Linked DNA regions of Homo sapiens: region 1 is linked to region 2. The links come from fine-mapping of genetic effects on gene expression. Tissue or cell type: blood mononuclear cells. Region 2 holds a variant in brackets; the other region holds the start of a gene. All regions are shown on one strand. Distances are from middle to middle.

Region 1 (2,682 bases), 83 kb before region 2:
GGGGAGGGCACAGGGAAAGTCATAGTGACGAGTTTGGACTTCATTCCACAGGCGGTGAGGAACCTTTCAGGGCTTTTTAAGCAGGGGGCCAGCAACATTAGATGTAGGCTGCTTATAGGATGGGGGAAATGGTGAAGATAGGGTGTGGAGGACAGGCGCCCAGGGTGTGACCAGGAGGCCCTCAGAATAATCCATGGAGCCCAAAACTAGGTCATGGAGCCCAAAACTAGAGTGATAAGAATAGAAAGAAGAATGTGACGCTGCCAAGGACTTGGCACCAACTGAATGGGGGGAAGGGGAGGTGTTGAGAAGACGGTCAAACCACAGACACCTAGGGATTCCGGGCACTGATGAAAGTTCCAAGAATTTCTATTCTTCCTTTACCTTACTCTCCACTCAATCAAAAATACCCTAACTTGACATCAGTTGACAAGTTGAGAGCCTAAATATGCAAAGTAAATAGGGGAGTCATCTTTGCCCATGAGAACCACAGACAGACATCAACCCGGCAAAGCCGGGCAAGGTGGCTCATGCCTGTAATCCCAGCACTTTCGGAGGCCCAGGCGGGCGGATCACTTGAGGTCAGGAGTTCGAGACCAGCCTGGCCAACATGGAGAAACCCCGTCTCTACTTAAAAAAAAAAAAAAAATACAAAAACTAGCCGGGTGTGGTGGCGCATGCCTGTAATCCCAGCTACTCGGACGGCTGAAGCATGAAAATCGCTTGAGCCCCGGAGGCAGAGGTTGCAGTGAGCCAAGATCGTGCCACTGCACTGTCCAGCCTGAGCTACAGAGCAAGACTCTGTCTAAAAAAAAAAAAAAGAAAGAAAGAAAAAAAAGAAAAGAAAAGAAAAGAAAAAGAAAGAAATCAACCTGGCACAGAGAAGGTGAGGGTAGTAGCGGTTCTGGTGCCCTGGCTCCAAAGCTGTAGGGCCTGGTCTAGGCCTCTAAGCACCTCTCTCCTTGGAAAGGGGGTGAAGACGACTGATTACGAAGAGGCCTGGGCTCTAATGTCGGTTCTGCCACTGACTGGGTGCCTGGCTTCATCGCTTATTTCTTCTTTTTCGTGTTGGACCAGAGCATTCCAGATGTCCTCTGCAGAGGTCGAACTCCAGGACTGCAGTATCTTTTCCTCTTCGCATGTACCGCTTTTCACATTCCCTGATTCCATTAAAAATATTTTCCTCTCTCGTTTTCTAATCTCATTTTTTATGAAGCACAGCACCCTTTCAGGGAAGGGAGCAGAGGCCTGGATATCTGGGTCTGGGCTTGGGCACCCAGACAAAGCCAACCGCCTCCTCCTTGGGCATCTCTTCTCTGCCCACCAGCGTGGCTCTGACTCCCCGACTGCAGCCCGCCTCGTTCCCACGGCAACCGGCGGGCGCCCACGACTGGCTTGGGACCCCGGGGCCACAGCCCCGCCCCGCCCCGCCCCGTGCTCTCGGCGGCTGCACCTGGTCGCGCGGGGGCGGGGAGGCGCGGTTGCTAGGGAAACCGGAGGACGCCCGGTAGCCGCCCCCACCGCCTCCGCCCCAGGCAAGGCCGGCCGGCGCCGCGGAAAGCAGCCTCGGGGAAGGAGGAGGAAGAGGGGCAGGTGTAGGGAGTGAAGAAGCAAAAAGAGGAGGAGGAAGAGGAGCTCAGGGCCGTCCCCGCGCAATTAATGGGCGGCTCCTGCGCCCTGGACCGGCCCGCCCGCCCAGCCCCTCGACCCCTGTAGCCCCGGCAGGGGAGGAAGGGCAGACCCACAGGTAACGGCCCCCTCGCCCCCGCCGCTCCGCTCCAGTTCTCCCAGGATGGGGGACAACCTTCCCTTTCGACTTACAAGATTCTGGAGGGAAACCGGGCCTGACATCCGGTGGCCTGGCCGTCCCCTCCCCTCGGCTGACCCCAGCCCCAGCATTTTTCTGTCTCAGAGGGACAGGTTTGGGGGAGACCGTGAACCTTTGCTCACTGGCACCCACATTCTTTCCTGCAGACGCCACTGGTCAGAAAAGGTATACACAGACCATGGCCCACTGGGCTTCTGAATGCGAAATGGTCGATATTGATTTTGTTTATTTTTGAGAAGGAGTCTCGCTCTGTCTCCCAGGTTGGAGTGCAGCGGTGCAGTCAGGGCTCACTGCAGCCTCGACCTCCCAGGCTCAAGCGATCCTCCCGCCTCAGCCTCCCGGTGGTAGCTGGGACCACAGGCCAACACCATGTCTGGCTAATGTTTTAAATTATTTGTAAAGAAGGGGTCTCGTTATGTTTCTCTGGCTGGATATTGTTATTAATGATGGCACTGAATTGCTTGTCAAACCTGTGACGTTTCCTCCCCCAGAGTTTCCCAATTACACGTTGAGTTTCTCCTCTCTTCTGGGCTTGATGGTCGAAATGTGACCACCTATCTCTCCTAGTTTCACAGTAAAATGAAGAGTCACCGCCAAACACAAGTCTGTTCCCCACCCTCCACCCCGCCCCCAACTCTTAAGCCAAATTGGCTGGAAGAGTTGAAAGATCTCCTTACCTTTCCCAACCAATTCCCCCTTTTTCTCTGCAGTCACAGTATTCTTAAATTGGGCCCAAATCGTAAACTTTGTTGCTTATACTCAAGACATGTTTATAAGCTAAGACTTTAAAATGCAAAGTTTTTTTTAGAGCTAAGATTTAAACAAATCCTATAATGTCTGACATTACAAATTAA
Region 2 (2,682 bases):
AATGTCCATTTCTTCCTCTTTTGATTTTAGTCTCTAGCCAGTTTCCTTTCCTTGACCAGATGGCCCCCAGTCCCGTGAGGACTCTAAAGAAAAGAAAATAGCCTTAGGCTTCTTAAAACCTCCCAACATGAACATCGACCAGCTATTCTTCACTCACCATTTATTAGACACAAATATCTTTACTTACATTTTCGTTAGTTCTTATCTTCATCAGATTCCAGCCGCTTACATTCTGGAATGCTGATGTCATTTGTTGGCATGTGTGGTGTTATTCGGGAGATTGTGTCCAGGTTTATTGGTTCATCATCCACCTAAACCAACATCTATTAAGTGAACTCTGTGCACAACACCTTGCCAGACACTAGATGTACTTTACAGTTTGCAGAACAGGTTCCTCATTGTCACACGTAGCCAGCCTGGCCACAGCCCTAGGAAGTAGGTGGCAGTGGTGTTATCACCATGACCCTCATTGTACAGATGAGGAAACAGGGTCTTGGGAAGATTAAGGAACTTATCCAAAGTCACACAACTCACAAGTTTCAGAGGCTGGCCTCAAACCCAGGCCCCCTGACCACGAATCCCATGCACTCACCAGTATGCCACCCCCACCAACTTCCTGGCAGGGAGAGGGGCTCCTGGCCTTGACTCCAGTTTGAAAATGATTCTGTAGCCATTTCCCTTTACCTCTTGATTTATGGTGGCAGTGCTGGTCCTCCATGTCAGCTCACACGTATTGACAATTGCAAAGAAGCCTGTTACAAGAATTTGTGCCTCAGCCAGGCCCAGGGGCTCACACCTGTAATCCCAGCACTTTGGGAGGCCAAGGCATGTGGATCGCTTCAGCCCAGGAGTTCAAGACCAGTCTGGGCAACATCGTGAGACTCCATCTCTACAAAATAATTTTTAAAATAGCCAGGTGTGGTGGCATGCACCTGTAATCCAGCTACTTGGGAGGCTGAAGTGGGAGGATCACCAGAGCCTGAGGAGGTTGAGGCTGCAGTGGGCCAATATTGTGCCACTGCACTCCGGCCTGGGCAACGGAGTGAGACTCTGTTTCAAAAAAAAAGAGAGAATTTGTGCCTGTGTTATCAAAAATCATCTCACTAGGGTCAGAGGGGGCAGCGGGTGAGTACCAGGAGCCCTCTTCCTTCTCTGTCAATGCTCTGGGAACTGGTATTTGTAGAAACTGCAAACGTGTAGCCTCCTGGTCACGAGG[G/T]CTTGTTTTCACATTTAGTCTCCTGGAGGAGGACTCCGAGGAGGAGGGAGACTTGTGTCGCATCTGTCAGATAGCCGGGGGTTCCCCAAGCAACCCCCTCCTGGAGCCTTGCGGCTGTGTGGGAAGCCTGCAGTTTGTTCATCAAGAGTGCCTGAAAAAGTGGCTGAAAGTGAAAATAACATCAGGTAGGTGGGGAAGGAAGTGCAGTGAACGTGCCACGACATGTAATTAACATGAGGCACCACGGTGTGGGCCCCGGAGCCTTGTCATCAGCTCACTCTCCTCCGCAGAACAGCGACTCAGGGACACGTGGCTGAGCTCCAGATCCTTGCTCATAAAAGCTGTCTTTAAACTATGGGAGGGAGTTGGGGGTTTTTTGTTTGTTTTTGTTTTGGTTTGTTTTTTGTTTTTTGCTTTTATCTGAGAGAAGACTCCTGGGAACAAATGCTATTGAATTCTACCTCTGCTTGAGGCCTGAGCAGAGATGCTAAGATCGCCTCTCAGGAGGAAGGAAATAGAAGTGGGTCAGCGGTGGAAGCTCAGCAGACACACAGTAGCCGTGCCCAGCTAGCAGACACCCAGCAAAATACTTCAGAAGGTCCCTCATGAGAGACCCCCAGCACACACATCCTACTTCCTTTTATTTGGGGGTCACCTAAGAAACTAAACAAAGCTGCCTTTTAGCAATAGGGATAAGAGTGCTGATCTGATTGTCTAGAACCATATTAGATAAAGAAATTTCCATGTGCTGATTTTGTCAGCTCCCTAGCATCTTATAACTGGGTGTGCGGCACCTTCTCAACTCCCTGAGCAGGTTATAACCTAAATACAACCACATCGGTAGGTCGGCTGTAGTTTTCTGGGCAGAGAACAGAAGGTTTCTTTAAAGCATGGCTTTAGGAATGAGATCAACTTTAAGCAAAAAAAAAAAAAAAATGCATGGAACATCAGTGCAAAGAGCAACTTGATCAGAAAATAGCTGCGGCTTCTTTCAGACACACATCTCTGAAAACATATCCCCCCACAGCCAGATCCTATTTCTCCCCGTCTTCCATATCCTTCTCCTTAGCCGTCACTATCCAGGCTGCAGGGAGACTTAGAGCTTTACCCTGTCCCCATGAGGTGTTGCCACGCCCCCTCACCAAGGACAGCACACCATGGAATCAGAGAATGAACACGTGGGGTAATCATATTACTGTGTCATCCATGGAGCCCGTTTTATGCAACTTCCCTAGCATAAGAAATATAAGTCCACTGATCAAGATGCTTAAACGCATATCCATATAACGAGCAAAATATTCAGTCCTTCAGAGAGGGAAGAAAACGAGTAGATTTTGGTTGCTAACGACTCTGCCATGCAATCCTTTATCTTCCTAGAAATTTGGGCCAATTAAACATCTAACACAGAAAAAGTTACCTGTGAAACATGTCATGAAAATGCTGCTATGCTCATAAATGTCAACGCT

The links. PIP is the estimated chance that this variant, and not a neighbour inherited with it, causes the effect.
Region 1: MARCHF10 starts here. The variant in region 2 is fine-mapped to the expression of MARCHF10 in blood mononuclear cells (TOPMed, PIP above 0.99). The same link has a PIP of 0.9 or more in T cells and whole blood.

Annotation. Positions count from the first base shown.
Region 1 is chr17:62,807,142-62,809,823 of GRCh38, reverse strand. MARCHF10 (membrane associated ring-CH-type finger 10) reads left to right here and starts at 1,510. Exons shown (of 11, transcript NM_152598.4): 1 at 1,510-1,747. It overlaps MARCHF10-DT (MARCHF10 divergent transcript), which reads right to left and starts at 1,322. Exons shown (of 2, transcript NR_135634.1): 1 at 873-1,322. RefSeq lists a silencer at 1,472-1,621.
Region 2 is chr17:62,723,657-62,726,338 of GRCh38, reverse strand. MARCHF10 (membrane associated ring-CH-type finger 10) reads left to right here. Exons shown (of 11, transcript NM_152598.4): 7 at 1,235-1,401. The region is part of intron 2 of MARCHF10-AS1 (MARCHF10 antisense RNA 1); the gene reads right to left. Among named protein-coding and RNA genes, the nearest start is that of MARCHF10-AS1, 19 kb to the right of the region's middle. RefSeq lists an enhancer at 1,331-1,410. The variant G/T (reference allele first, on the strand shown) is at 1,217.